Linked DNA regions of Homo sapiens: region 2 is linked to region 1. A link means that fine-mapping ties the variant in region 1 to the expression of a gene that starts in the linked region. Tissue or cell type: thyroid. Region 1 holds a variant in brackets; the other region holds the start of a gene. All regions are shown on one strand. Distances are between the middles of the regions.

What was found. PIP is the estimated chance that this variant, and not a neighbour inherited with it, causes the effect.
Region 2: it holds the start of ERCC6, and the variant in region 1 is fine-mapped to the expression of ERCC6 in thyroid (GTEx, PIP above 0.99).

The regions. Positions count from the first base shown.
Region 1 is chr10:49,461,713-49,469,762 of GRCh38, reverse strand. The region is part of intron 18 of ERCC6 (ERCC excision repair 6, chromatin remodeling factor); the gene reads left to right. Among named protein-coding and RNA genes, the nearest start is that of PGBD3, 59 kb to the left of the region's middle. The variant G/A (reference allele first, on the strand shown) is at 5,583.
Region 2 is chr10:49,535,213-49,543,262 of GRCh38, reverse strand. ERCC6 (ERCC excision repair 6, chromatin remodeling factor) reads left to right here and starts at 4,142. Exons shown (of 21, transcript NM_000124.4): 1 at 4,142-4,301. RefSeq lists enhancers at 3,460-3,699, 3,730-3,789, 7,032-7,091, 7,122-7,171 and silencers at 4,210-4,499, 5,445-5,633.

The sequences.
Region 1 (8,050 bases):
TGTCAAGGGAGAAAAGTTAGGAGATGTAGACTCAACAATTGCTCAAGACCATGGAGTATATAGATAGCCCTGCTTAGTGATCCCTTAGCAGTCACTGTGTTCACAATGTGATGGCCTTGAGTTACCAAAGATTGCTGCTTATGGTACTCAGTTTAAGAAGGCAGGTTTATGTGTAGCATTTCAGAAAGACTTTTATTTAGCATGGTTAATTTTTTTGTTAATTTCATATTTTGAAGTAATTTCAAACTTAAATCAGTTGGGTCTCAAAAAAAAATCAGTTGGAATAATACGAAGAACTCTCCTATATCCTTTATCTAAGTTATTAACATTTTTCAGCTTTTGCTTTATCATTCACACACACACCCATCTATGCATACATTTTTTTTTTGGTAGGAATGCCACAGAGGTGATACCGTATCTTACTCAGTGCATCTATCAGGAGACACATGCTGGTTTGACCTATTACAAGTTGATTTTTAAGATCACTTGGTTAAGGTGGAGTCTGCCAGGTTTCTCAATGCTAAGGTTAATATTTTTACCTTTGTAATTAATTTGTGCTTTCAAGGAATATGCTTTGAGACTGTGTAAATATCCTGTTTCTCATCAAACTTTTATCCACTAGTTTTAATATCTATTGATGATTCTTTCCTCAGTCAGTTATTACTACAATGGTTGCCAAATGGTGATTAACATTCTATTGTAAGGAAGGTTTTCCTTCTCTCTTATTTATTTATTAATTTATTTTTAGATCAGTGTGGACTAATGGATTCTTTTTTTTTCCATGACTGTAATCCATTAGTAGGGGTATTATGATGCTCGTATTGTCTTAGATTTGCCTCATGGGTGGGAGCTCCTTCAAGCTGGCTCCTTTGTCCCTCTGGTATGTCCCCACCATTCTTTGAGCACCTCCTTTCTTCTTGGCATACTAATATATGCTGAGCTCAATTTGTATTCTGTGCCAGCCCTGGAATCAGCCATTTCTTCAAGGAACCCTGGAGAATGGTATTTAGGAACTAGGATCCGGGTTCTCAGAGTGTTCATTGCTGCTATTATGTCATTGCTTTCGTAGCCAATAGTATCAGGAAATAGATGTATGTATGTGTGTGTATGTGTTTGTTGTGTACATACATATACACATACATACGTGCATATATATGCACAACAAATTGCACAGATACACCTGTCTCTATGTCTGTGAAAACCATGAATTTGGCTTCCAGCAAAGGCAGATTAACATTTACCCTTCCATGTGAAACAATGAAAACAATGACAAAACATATGAAGCAATGGTTTTCAGACACCAAAGGGCAGTGATCTCTTGAGAGATGGGAAACAAATGAACTGAGCTCTCCAGTTGCCCTGCCCTACTGCCTTGAGAGAATTTTCGTGCTGTAACAGAAAGAGGGAGAACCCAGATGGGAGTCCAGGCAGACCCTCTGTTGAAAAGGCAGAGCTGAGCATCAGGGGAGGCCAGGGTGGCTGGCATTCACATGCAAGAGACGATAGCGGAGACAGCTCTGCACAGGGAGAGAACCCCACAGGTCTGCAGAGTCTCCACTGGCACTCAGCTGAATACTGACCAGCACATTGTGCAAGAAAACTACTTAAGGTCAGTGAAAAGGCCTTTCCTCTTTAACTTTTCGAATTAGAGGAAACATGTCTGGTGCTCACCCATGGCCAGGGATAGTGCCTGTTCCCACCAGCTAAGACTGGAAAAATATTTCATGGGGCATTGGGTATGATACAGAGTAGGGGGTCTTGCCTCTGTAGTAGGGAATGATCAGCCTTAGAGTGAGCACTGCTTCAGCCCTACCTGAGTGTTTACAGGAATATACAAATACCCAACATCCAACAAGATGAAATTCACAATGTCTGGAACCCAATAAAAAATTACTGGCTGGGTGTGGTGGCTCAGCCTGTAATCCCAGTGCTTTGAGAGGCTGAGGTGGGTTGATTGCTTGAGCCTAGGAGTTCAAAACCAGCCTGGGCAACATAGTGAGATCCTATCTCTACAAAAAATAAAAAAAAAAATAGCCGGGTGTGGTAGCATACACCTGTGGTCCCAGCTACTTGCGAGGCTGAGCTGGGAGGATTGCTCGAGCCTGGGAGGTTGAGGCTGTGGTGAGCTGTGATCATGCCACTGCACTCCAGCCTGGGCAGCAGAGCGAGACCCCATGTCAAAAAATAATAAAATGTATAACCCAATTTTTTAAATGGACAAATAATTTGAACAGACTTCACCAAGAAAGATATGTAGATGGCAAATAAATATATGAAACTTGTTAATATTATTAGTTATTAGGGAAATGCCAATTAGAACCATAACGAGATACCACTATACACCCTCTAGAATGGCTAAAATGAAAGAAGACTGACCATACTAAGTGTTGGTAAAGATGTGAAGCAGTTGGGTCTCATACACGCCTGGTGGGAATGTAAAATGGCACAATCACTTTGGAAAACAGTTTGGCAGTTGCATGCGCTTTCCTTGTGATATAGCTTTTTCAGTCCTGGGTGTGTATTTGCCCAAGAGAAATGGAAAAATATGTCCATACGAAGGCTTGTACATGAATATTCGTAGCAGCTTTATTAGTAATAGCCAAAAATGTAGAAATCAAATGTCTACCAACAAGTAAATAGTTAAACTAACCATGGCATATCCATATGATCAAATACTAGTCGACAGGTGGGGCTTGGCTCACGCCTGTAATCCCAGCACTTTGGGAGGCCGAGGTGGGTGAATCACCTGAGGTCAGGAGTTCGAGACCAACCTGGACAACATGGTGAAACTCCATCTCTACAAAAATACAAAAATTAGGCATGATGGTGGGTGTCTGGAATCCCAGCTACTTGGGAAGCTGAGCGGGAGAATCGCTTGAACCTGGGAAGTGGAGGTTGCAGTGAGCCGAGATCACACCATTGTACTCCTGCCTGTGCGACAGAGCAAGACTCCGTCTCAAAAAATATATATACTAATCAACAATAAAAGGAAGTAGAGTATTGATACATGCTACAGCATGGATGACTTTCGGACTAGTAAGATTAGTACATACTCTGATGCCGTTTGCATAAAATTCTAGAAAACACACAGTCATGACAGAAATTGGATTGGTTGTCTGGGCATGGGGTATTTGACGGTGGGATTACAAAGGGACATGAGTTTTGCAGGTGACGGCTATGTTCATTGTCTTGATTGTAGTGATAGTTTCATGGTATGTACATAATGTCACAACTTACCAAATACTGTACTTTAGCAGTTATTGCATATCAGTTACACTCTAATAAGCTCCAAAAAGCAAAATAAGATGAGGGAATACTGTTGTCTCCAATTTCATTTCAGCACCCTAGGGCCCTTTCCATGTTTGTAGCTTCCTTCTTCAAGACCTTCATTCACAACGTACTGAGTTACTTGTCAATCCTAGGATACATGGTAGCTTTTTACAATTTCTGACCTGAACTATGGCAAGAAACAGTTATACTAACTAGAATTCAATATTTGTTTTTATTTATACTAACTAAAGTTCAATATTTGTTTTTATTTCTTTTTGTCTTTAGTCTAAGTTTTTGGTCAAAACACTACTTGAGTCAAAAATAACTTAGTTCTTTTTTCTCACCCTTCATCATATTTTCAGTGTGTGCTATCAGTTTAAAATACAGTTAGGTTAATTTATTTGTTTGTATTCCACTTTAGGGTTTCCTCCCATCCTTGTTGACTCTATGTTATCTTCTGAGTAGTAACACATTAACATAGTAACAAAAGACAAAATATGCAAAAAGGAATACCAGAGTAGTGTCATCCCCCACCCTGTCCCCACCCCTTCCTTACCTTACCAGTCTCATGAGTTTCTGGCATTTCCTTCATGTGTTTCTGTGTTAGTCTGTTTTCACACTGCTGATAAAGACATACCAGAGACTGGGCAATTTACAAAAGAAAGAGGTTTAATTGACTTACAATTCCACATGACTGGGGAGGCTTTACAATCATGCAAGGAGGAGCAAGTAACATCTTTCATGGATAGCAGCAGGCAAAGAGCTTGTGCAGAGAAATTCCCATTTTTAAAACCATCAGATCTCATATAAGACTCATTCACTAGTACAAGAACAGCACAGGAAAGACCCAACCCCATAATTCAGTCACCTCCCACCAGATTCCTCCCATGACATGTGGGAATTGTGGGAGTTACAATTCAAGATGAGATTTGGCTGGGACATAGCCAAACCATATCTTTCCACCTCTGGCCCCTCCCATATCTCATATCTTCACATTTTAAAACCAATCATGCCTTCCCAACAGTCCCCTAAAGTCTCAACTCATTTCAGCATTAACTCAAAAGTCCACAGTCCAGAGTCTCATCCAAGACCAGGCAAGTCTCTTCTGCCTATGAGCCTGTAAAATCAAAAGCAAGTTAGTTACTTCCTAGATACAATAGGGTTACAGGCATTGGGTAAGTACAGCCATTCCAAATGGGAGAAATTGACCAAAACAAAGGGGCTATAGGCCCCACACAAGTCTGAAGTCCAGCAGGGCAGTCAAATCTTAAAGCTCCAAAATGATCTCCTTTGACTCCTTGTCTCGCATCCAGGTCACGCTGATGCAAGAGGTGGGTTCCTATGGTCTTGGGCAGCTCTGCCCCTTTGGCTTTGCAGGGTATAGCCCCCCTCCTGGCTGCTTTCATGGGTGGCATTGAGTGTCTGCAGCCTTTCCAGGTGCATGGTGCAAGCTGTCAGTGGATCTACTGTTCTGGGGTCTGGAGGACCGTGGCCCTCTTCTCATAGCTCCACTAGGTGGTGCCCCAGTAGGGACTCTGTGTGGGGACTCCAACCCAACATTTTCCTTCTGCACTGCCCTAGGAGAGATTCTCCATGAGAACCCTGCCCCTGCAGCAAACTTCTGCCTGGGCATCTAGGAGTTTCCATACATCTTTTGAAATCTAGGCAGAAGTTCCCAAACCTCAGTTATTGACTTCTGTGCACCCTCAGGCTCAACACTGTGTGGAAGCTCCCAAGGCTTGGGGCTTGCACCATCTGAAGCCACAGCCTGAGCTCTTTGTTGGCCCCTTTCAGCCACAGCTGGAGTGGCTGGGACACAGTACACCAAGTCCCCAGGCTGCACACAGCATGGGGACCATGGGCCAGGCCCGTGAAACCACTTTTTCCCCCTGGGCCTCTGGGCCTGTGATGGGAGGGGTTGCCATGAAGGTCTCTGATATGCCCTGCAGACATTTTCCTCATTGTCTTGGGGATTAACATTTGGCTCCTCGTTACGTAATGCAAATTTCTGCAGCCAGCTTGAATTTCTCTTGAGAAAATGGGGTTTTCTTTCCTATCACATTGTAAGGCTGCAAATTGTCCAAACTTTTATGCACTGCTTCCCTTATAAAACTGAATGCCTTTAACAACACCCATGTCACCTGTTGAATGCTTTGCTGCTTAGAAATTTCTTCCGCCAGATACCCTAAATCATCTCTCTCAAGTTCAAAGTTCCACAGATCTCTAGGGCAGGGGCAAAATGCCGCCTGTCTCTTTGCTAAAACATAACAAGAGTCACCTTTGCTCCAATTCCCAACAAGTTCCTCATCTCC[G/A]TCTGAGACCACCTCAGTTTGGACCTTACTGTTCATATCACTATCAACATTTTTGTCAAAGCTATTCAAGAAGTCTCTAGGAAGTTGCAAACCTTCCCACATTTTCCTCTCGTCTTCTGAGCCCTCCAAACTGTTCCCATCTCTACCTGTTACCCAGTTCCAAAGTTGCTTCCACATTTTGGGATATCTTTTCAGGAGCGCACCTCCCCACTGGTACCAGTTGCCTTTATTAGTGCATTTTTATGCTGCTGATAAAGACATTACCCAAGACTGGGCAATTTACAAAAGAAAGAGGTTTAATCAACTTACAGTTCTGTGTGGCTGTGGAGGCCTCACAGTCATGTCAGAAGGCAAGGAGGAGCAAGTCACATCTTACATGGACGGCAGCAGGCAAAGAGAGCTTATGCAGGAAAACTCCCATTTTTAAAACCATGAGATCTCATGAAACTCATTCACTCATGAGAACAGTGTAGGAAAGACGCATCTTCATAATTAATCACCTCCCACTGGGTTCCTCCCATGTCACGTGGGAATTGTGGGAGTTACAATTCAAGATGAGATTTGGGTGGGGACACAGCTGAACTATATGTTTCTTTTGTAGAAATAAGCAGGCACATGTATAATTTTATATTCCCTTATTCTCTTACACAAAAGGTTGTATACTATATTATCTTCTGTTCCTTTTTTTAAAAAAACTTCATATATCCTGACAGCCACTGCAGTATTAATTAACAGAGAGCTATTCCTCCTTTAGCAATTTTTATTGCTAGAGTGCTCTGCTATGTTGACCCAAAACCTGAAATCTAAAATGCTCTAAAATCCAAAACTTTTTGTGCACTGACATGATGCCAGATGTGGAAAATTCCACACCTGACTTCATGTGATGGGTCACAGTCAAAACACAATTAACACTTTGTTTCCTGCACAAAATTGATAAACGTATTATATTAAAATTACCTTCAGGCTATGTGTGTAAGGTGTATGTTAAAAATATATACATTTTGTGTTTAGACTTGGGGCCCATCCCCAAGATGTCTCATTAGGTATATGCAATTATTCCAAAATCTGAAAAAGGCAAAATCTGAAGCACTTCTGGTCCCAAGAATTTTGGGTAAGAGATATTCAACCTGTACCACAGTTTATCCACATATGAGGATTTAGATTTTTTATAGCTTCTTTTAGCCACAGTGCTGCACTAAATAATCCTGTGCTTATACAAGAGGAATTGCTAGATCAAAAGGTAAACACATATGTAAGTTTGTTTTGTTTGTTTGTTTGAATAATGCCCAACTCCCTTTTGTAAGGTTTAGATCAATTTGAATTGTCACGAGCAGTTGTTGCCCAGAGGCTTGTCAAGAGTGTGGTGTTACACTTTTAATTTTTCCCAATCTGATAGGTGAGAAAGGATATCTTAAGTTTTAATTTCCAGTTATTTTCTTTGAGTGAAATTGAACTTTTTATAGGACCATTTATATTTAAAAAATTTTTCTTTCTGTGAACTTGTCTGTTCATGTCTTTTGTCCATTTTCTAAATCAGGTTTTTGGTCCCTTTTTCCCCTTGGTTTTAAAGAGTTCTTTATATATTAGGGATGTTAGCTTTTCATTTTTCATATATGTTACAAGTATTTCCTCATTGGTTGTCCTTTATTATGATTTTTTTCCTATGAAACAGGTTTTTTTTTAAAAAAATTGTCAGTCTTTTATTAATTGGAATTGTAGTTCTAAGCCTTTTCTACATATAGATCATATGATAATTCGCCATGTTTTCTTGTACTACTTGTATGGTTTTGCTTTTTACATTCAGATTTCTGATCCATTTGGAGTATGAGGTGTGGATTTTATCTTGGTTCAAAGATAAAATGCCCCAACGTTTGTGCCCCAACGTTTGTAGCATCATTTATTTCAAATAAGTTTTTCTCAGTGATTAGAGATGCCTTTATCATGTAGTACATTTCCAAATGCAGTTCAATCTATTTCTATTTTCTGGTCAATCTCCTGTTGTGTCTCTTCTTTCCTCAGCACCAAACTGTTGTAATTGGAGCGTGTTTTATTGTCCAATAGGGTGTTACTTTGCCTTTTCAGTGTTTTCTGATCTGTTCATGAAGGTTTATTGTTCTGTATGAACTTTAGTGTCAGTTTGTCTAGCTTCATAAGAAAGGTTGACATTTTTATTGAGATTACATTAAACATATAAATTAACTCAGGGAAAATGGTTATTGAGTCATTCTACTCAAATGCAAGGGATGTCTTTCTGTTTGTTTAAGTCTGATAGTCTATCTTCCCAGGAGTGTTTTCATGTCTTCTCCATATAGGCTTTACACATTGCTTGGGTTTATTCCTAAGTGTTTGGTCTTTTCTGTTACTGTAAATAGAATTTTCCCACCATTATATTTTTAGCTGGCTATTGTTTGTAAATAGGAAGGTTATAGGTTTCTGTGTGTGAATTTTATATTTTTTATGTTGCTTGA
Region 2 (8,050 bases), 74 kb before region 1:
TCTCGGCATCTGGATCGGGAATCCTTCCTGGTAACAGTTCACAATGGATGGTTTTATACATTCATTGCTTTTAAGCTTGCTGATTCATTTATTCAACATACATTTAACATGTTTTTCTAGTGGTTGCCAACACAGTTCTAAATAATATGCTTTTGCTTCTTTTTTGATTTATAATTTTTACAAAGTATTTATTGTGTTTCCAATACATCTAATTATTTTTCATGAGTTTTCCCCATTTATAAGGATCAGAGAACCAAACCGGTTTTGTTGCACTGCCGTTACCCAGAAGTTTTGAAAAGTGAGAGTCAACTCAGACCTCTGTTCTGTAGGTCATTGGGAGAATTCCTTATATTGAACACGAAATGTGAAATAAAGGCGCAAGGATGAATATCGTCATAGTTAAACAAGTTAACATTAGTAAAGCACTCAAGACAATGAAACCACCTTTGCAAAAATTATATCAGTTAGAAAATTATGACAGTGAAAGAGGTCTGAGTTAACGCCCCCATTCCAACACCTATCTTGCCTTTCCCTTAATTATTTCTAAGCTACTGGGGCCAGCTAACTTTGAGAGACATTTAGGCTATAGTTTACATGATAACAGACCTTGCCTGAAACTCAACTGTTTTTGTAAAGCTAATGGGAAGCTATCAGGCTGTGGGGGAGGAGAGGAGCCTGAGTCCTGCTAAGGCGCAGATATGAACGATTGTCAGTCATTATTCTGGAGGTTATAAGATACTCAACTTTCCCAATTACTCCTGCAAATAACACCACTGATATGGTTTGGCTGTGTCCCCACCCAAATCTCATCCTGAATTGTAGTTTCCATAATCCCTACATGTTGTGGGAGGAAGCCGGTGGGAGATAACTGAATCGTGAGGGTGGTTACCTCCATGCTGTTCTGATAGTGAGTTCTCACGAGATCTGATGGTTTTATAAGGGGCTTTCCCCCTCCTTCACTCTGCACTTCTCCTTGCTGCCACCATGTGAAGTAGGACATGTTTGCTCCCCCTGTCACCATGATTGTAAGTTTCCAGAGGCCTCCCCAGCCATGCTTAACTGTGAGTCAATTAAACCTCTTTCCTTTATAAATTACCCAGTCTTGGGTATGTCTTTATTAGCAGCACGAGAGCAGACTAATACAACCACTATTTGTAGCTTTTTGAGATATCTTTCCAGGTTTTTTGCATGTCTGACACCCATGGCTCCACCTGGACCGCCAACCCCACTCCCACAGCCCCACCCAGAAGTGATTCAGACTGCAGGAGGACAGCTTTGACTCCCCCTATGATTTCATCTCAGCCTCAACCAATCAGCAGCAAGCACCTGTTACCTGGCCACTCCCACCCCTTCCTCCAAACTGCGTTTGAAAAACCCCCAGCCTATGAGCTTCGGACTTTGGATCAGATGACCTGAGCATGCACTCCATCTCCCACCTGGCATGGTCGGCCTCGTGTCTATTAAGCTCTTTTTCTACCACAATGCTATGGTCTTTCTTTATGCAGTGGGCAGGAAGAACCCCTTGGGTGGGGTGTTTAAAATAATGCCCAGCTTAGAGTAAGGGCTAGGAAATGGTAGGGAAAATGGATTAAAATCCAAATCAATAACTACTATAATAATGACATTAGAAATATTGGTTTGGGGGTACACAGGAGATGCAAGAGCCTATTGCTGTCAGAGGGTAGGGGAAAGCTTCAGAAAAGAGAAACTTTGTCTGAGTTTGGAATGGGTAAGAGAATTCTAAGCAGAGGGACCTGCTTGTAAGATCACAGAAGTGACAGAATAACAAGTAGGGGTATGTGGGAAAAGATTAATAATTGCCTCTCCCCCAAAGTTCCAGTTTATAGTTTGTCCATTTCTGTGGTATAAATACTCCTACTATGGCTGATTTCAAGCTATTAATGTGAAGTCAACAAAGGCAGAGTTGGTGCTATGGGCTAAACTGGGTGCCCCCCAAATTCATATGCTGAATCCCTAACCCTCAATGTGACTATTTGGAGACAGGGTCTTTAGGCAGCAAATCTGGTTAAATGAGATCATAAGGGTGAGTCCCTAATCCAATACGGCTGATGCCTTAGAAGAAAGGGAAGACAGAGCCCTCTCTCTACCCCATGTAAGGACACAGTGAGAAGGTAACCATTTGCAAGCCATGAGGAGAGCTTCCCCTAAATGAGCTAAATCTGCCTGCATTTGATCTTGGACTTCCCAGCCTCCAGAACTATGAGAAACAAATGCCTGTTGTTTAAGCTGCCCAGTCTATGGCATTTGTTATGGCAGCCTGAGCTAAGGCAGCTGGGAAGAGGTGAACAGTATGCTTGCTAGGCCGTAGAAGCCAATTGTAGCACACCCTTCCTGGGAGAAGAGTAAGTAGTTCCCTAAATCCTGAGCATAGGCATCCAGGGAGTGAAGGACACAAGTGATGCAGAAAAATTAGATGGGGCAGGAGTATAAAAGGGCTTGGACGACTTGCTAAATAACTTGGGACCTCATTTAACTAAATTCCCTCATTAAAGACCCTATCTTCAAATACAGTCACATTCTGAGGTCCCGGGGTGGGGGTGGGGAGTGGCGGTTAGGACTCCAGCATATGAATTTTGGGGAGGGGACACAATTCGGCCCTTAATAGCTCCAGTTGTGCCACCCTGAGTTGTTTTCCTGAACCCCGCCCACGTCTTTGTAAATAATAACTCTCAACTTCCCCTTTTGAGTGGACCATTTTTTCCTGTCCAAATTCTGATATAGGAAGGGTCTCCAAAATAGCTGCAAAGGGAACCTCAGTCTCAAAAGTTGGGATCCACTATATATCTGCTTTTACTTTCAAGCATTGAAACTAATGTCAATCAACTGCCTTTCTATTCTTAATATTTTATCCAAGAAATCGCTAGAATTCTTTCTCCTTTAAAAAAAAAAAAAAGCAAGTTACAAGCCGGGCGTGGTGGCTCACACCTGTAATCCCAGAACTCTAGGAGGCCGAGGCGGGTGGATCACCTGAGGTCAGGAGTTCGCGGACAGCTTGGCTAACATGACGAAACCCCGTCTCTACTAAAAACACAAAAATTAGCTGGGCATGGTGGCAGGCGCCTGTAATCCCAGCTACCCGGCAGGCTGAGGCAGGAGAATCGCTTGAACCTGGGAGGAGGAGGTTGCAGTGAGCCCACATCGTGCCATTGTACTCCATCCTGGGCGACAAGAGCAAAACTCCGTCTCAAAAACAAAAACAAAAACAAAACAAACAAAAAAACCCACTACCACCAACAAAAACAAGTTACATTGTGGGTTGGGGCCGCTGACAGGAGGAATAAGATGATGTTATGGAGCATTTCCTAGTCCCCTTTCCGACCCCATTTCCCTATTGTCCGACTTCAGGCTTCCAAGTGAGGACAGCACTTCCCAGGCAGTGACCCGCAGTCACTGCCCTCCCAGAGGACGTCCTGCCTCGCGGCCCTGGAAAGTCCACCTTCTCCTAGCACCGATCCTGAGCTGAGAAGCTCTGTCTGGTACAGCCATCCTGCATCGTGGGCTGCTTCTTTCCCCAGGCGAAGCTCAACTTCCTCCCATTGTTCTGAACCTCTGTGTGGACATCTTCTTTCTTCAAACGCACCACGGTAAAATTCTCGCCTGCCTCGAAACCCCGCCTACCTCTGAGATCTGAGGACGGATACTAAACGCTGGACTTAAGGCAATGTACACATGTAAGCAGGCTCTGTAGGCACTCACTCCGCCCAGGTGCGCGCGTGGCGGAGGGGGAACAGAGAAGCAGGACAGCTCTCCATCCTTCCCGTGTTCAGTCGTGGGAGACAACAAGAGAGGTCACAGCCTGGCGACCAAAAAGTGCGGCTAACTTCCCTGCCCAAGCTGACTTTCTCTGCAGGGTTCAAGGTTAATTGTGAGGATTTACATTCGCATGGCACACCCGCATCCCCCTCTACGTGGAAATATGTCTTAACTTTCATAACTGCCTTGCCAGCAGGGTATTTTTCGCTAGGGGCGAAGCGTCCTTCGCAAGCCACCCAGCTGACCGGCAGCGGAGACAGCTTTCTCGCCCTGCTCGCACGCAAGTAGAAAGGCGCTGCTGAGCCCGTCCCTCCAAACCACGTGGTCTTGCCCGTGCTTAAAAACAAACGCTGAGCCAGGCGCATGCGCCACGGGCCTCCCCGCACCAGCAGAAGTCGGAGTCGCTGTTGGGGGCGGTGTCTATGGTTGAGCTGAGGGCGCAGGCGCCACGGCCCGTCGAGCTGGGTTCCAAGGCGGCTGGCGGCGGTAGCGTCTCTGTTTCCTTGTGGGCGCTCGCGCGGCCCTGGGTGAGTGTTCGGGGGTCCCGGCCGAATGTCGGGCAGGGGGTGTCGGGGCCCAGCTCAGGCTTCTCGGGCGGGCCGCGGCCCCGCGCCTTGGCCTCGCCGTGGTGATTGAGCCTGTCAGCGAGGACGCACTGTAGCGGGTCTTAGGGCCAAGTGCCCGCTTCCGGCGGCCTCACCTGAGACCGGAAGTAGCGCCAAGGAGCGCTCACCTGAGGCGGCTTGAGTCCCTGGCCGGCCAGCGACCCAGCTACTTCTCCGACTTTGTATAAGGCCCCCTGCGCGCAGGGTCAGCTGGGTCCTTTTTGATCTCGATTAAAATGCTGGAGCTGTTATTTTAAAGAGAGTCGGGCTAGATGTACGTCCGACGTTTTGGGCGTTGATAGAGTCAAATTGATAAGAGTGTGGGCGGATGAGGCAGGCCGCCTGTAAATGCTGCTGTTACGTGACTTCCACGCAGCGTCTTAACTGCTGTCATCCTGTGACAGGCAGCCCTCGCTTTTCTCCTCAACTTTTCCCATCATCTTCTTGTTGCTTTGTCTCCTCCAATCCATTATCCGCACAGTTGTCCAGGTGGTCTCTGGCATAAAGTAGGTCATGCCATCATCAGCCTACTTAACAGTTTTCAGAGTCATTCCATTGCACTGGGAGTGGAATCCATGCTCGTGTTTTCCCAGGCCTTGTGTGATTTGGCCCTTGCCTGTCCCCTCTCAGAACTGTGCCTGTGTCCGACCAACCCTCCAAATGAGACCCAGCTTGCCCCTGGCTGCGGGAGCCCCAGTGATGGGGGAGGACGGTGAAGATACTAGTGTCCCAGATGATTAAGCCTTAGAAGATACTCTGCAAGACTTAGGCCATGAACGGAGCCCTTCTCTGCTCTTCTTAACTCAAAGTTAAAAATAAAGTCAAAAATTCGGTGTTCCAGCCTTCTTGCATTTTCACAAGTGCATCAGCTCTTTCTAGTCTTAAAAGTTACGCACGTTGTTGGGAGGCCGAGGTGGGTGGATCACCCGAGGTCAGGAGTTCGAGACCAGCCTTACCAACGTGGTGAAACCCTGTCTTTACTAAATACGAAAAATTAGCCGGGCATGATGGCATATGCCTGTAATCCCAGCTAATCGGGAGGCCAAGGCAGGAGAATCGCTTGAACCCGGAAGGCGGAGGTTGCAGTGAGCCTGGCGGAGCCTGGCGGAGGTTGCACTCCAGCCTGGGCAACCGGAGCGAAATTCCGTCTCAAAAAAAAAAAAAATTTCACACGTTGTTTCCTTGCAAGACGTTCACTTTACTTTCGACCTGACTGACTTATCAGATGTCACTTTATCAGAGAGGCCTCCTTGACCCCACATCTACCTCCACAATTTCAATTTGGTTTCTCTCATTTTGTCAGAAAGCCTTGTACTTTCCTCTTAACAGCAGTCACCACAATTATATTTGTGTGTGTGTGTGTGTGTGTGTGTGTATGTGTATATATATATATATAGTTTTTAAATGTCTGTTTTTCCCATGAGACTCTAAGCTCTTTGGGGACAGGAATTAGTTAACCTAGTACATTGCCTGGTGTAATTAACTCTCAGTAACTATTTGTTAAATGTATGATTTCTTTCTTTCTTTTTTTTTTTTTTTTTGAGACGGAGTCTTGCCCTGTCGCCCAGGCTGGAGTGCAGTGGTGCGATCTCGCTCACTGCGGCCTCCGCCTCCTGGGTTCAAGCGATTCTCCTGCCCCAGCCTCTCGAGTAGCTGGGATTACAGGCGCGCGCCTCCATGCCCAGCTAATTTTTGCATTTTTAGTAGAGACGGGGTTTCACTATGTTGGTCAGGCTGGTCTCGAACTTCTGACCTCGTGATCCTCCCGCCTCGGCCTCCCAAAGTGCTGGGATTACAGGCATGAGCCACCGCTCCCGGCAAATGTATGATTTATTTCACTTCTGAAATTCTTTAACCTGATAAGAGCCTTCTGGTTTCCAACTCTCACTTCCAGAAGACTTGGTTTTCTGGCCATTGCCAGATACTAAGTGACTTCTTGAACCCTTTCTCCCATTTCCAGGCCCCTTCTGTTTTTTTGTTTGTTTGTTTTTGTTTTTTTAAACCTACCCAGCTTGGACCCTGAAGTCAGTTGCTTCAGCTACTCTTCTCAGCATCTTCAACCCCGTGACTCTTTTGCGCTACCATTTCTGCTCTGAAAACCCTCAATAGTGACATTTCCCCCAGGACTACTGAAGGAGGAGATTGTTCAGCCCTGGAGATTGTTAGCAGTCTATGGCTTTGCAGGGCTGGGGAGATCCTCAGGTAGGTCCTCCACAGCAATCATCAGTGTTTGTTCCCTGTCAACTCCCTTTTCTCTTGTACAGGACATTTATTCCAGACTCTTAGTCTTTAGCCCCAGTGCCAACTTTGTCTCCTGACTCAGGAACTGCCCAACTTGCTGCTTTGTGGGATATTTTGTCTGTAATCCACTTCAGCTTCCCTCCTTTCCACCTGCAAATTTAGATCTATCAGGAATCCTCCTTCTGCCAGAGTCCGAGAAAGATGTGTTGTGCCTCCTGTTCATTTCTGCTTGCGACCTTCCACTTTTGCTGTCTCTTTTGGTACACCTTTCTGGGTTATCTCCTCTGTCTCCCTCCAGCCATTACGTGCTCTAGTTTTTCTTGCCCTAGTTCTCTCCCTACCCCCAACAAATCCATTATTACTTTATCACTGTAGCTGTCTCCCTGCCAGAGGCAAGCTCTTTAAAGGACAGGCCACTCTCTTGTGGCCTCCATTTCCTCATCCACTCCTTACACACCAACTACATTTCAACCACTACAGTCTGGTTTTTGGCCCTATCGCTCCACTGAAACTTTTTTATTTTTTCGAGACAGAGTTTCACTCTTGTTGCCCAGGCTGGAGTTCTGCGGTGTGATCTCAGCTCACTGCAACCTCTGCCTCCTGGGTTCAAGCGATTCTCGTGCCTCAGCCTCCCGAGTAGCTGGGATTACAGGCATGCACCACCACGCCTGGCTAATTTTTGTATTTTAGTAGAGATGGGGTTTCACCATGTTGGGTCAGGCTGGTCACGAACTCAGGTGATCCACCCGCCTTGGCCTCCCAAAGTGCTGGGATTACAGGTGTGAGCCACCAAGCCTGGCCTGAAACTTCTTTTACCAAGGTAAATGGTGACCCATTGGTATCCAAATTCACTCAGCCTTTTCTCATTCACTGGACGCTCTTCCTCCTTTTTTATTATTAGAAGTTTTCCCCAAACTTCTTTATTTTTAACCTTGTCTTTACACTACAATACTATTGCTTTTTGATATTATTTTACAGAAATAGAAAAATGGTTACTTAATATTTTTGGTTGAATTGGCATCCTTTTTTCTTAAAAAGAAATCCTCATGTGTGTACAAATAAGAAAAATGAAAACAGAATTGTTAACTGCCAGCTAGTACAGACACTCTGAGCTGGAATCCTGCTCTCTCTGTTGGAAAGTGAGGTGAGCTGAGCCTTCCTCTTGAAAATAATCAGCAGGCCCCAAAAGAAGGAACTTTCTCACTGTGTTGTTCACTTTTTAACCTTTCCAATGTTAGCCTCCTCGTACCCTCCAAAATGACCTTAGGTACCTGTCAGAGCCTTGGGAACCCTGGAACTGCTCACTCTGCTGATGTGTCCACATGTCACCCAGACTTTCCCTTGAGCTCAGATTTGCATTTCTGACTGCATGCTGCAAATGGTACTGATTACATGTAAGCTGCTTGCCAGTCCTGCTTCCTATCTGCTTC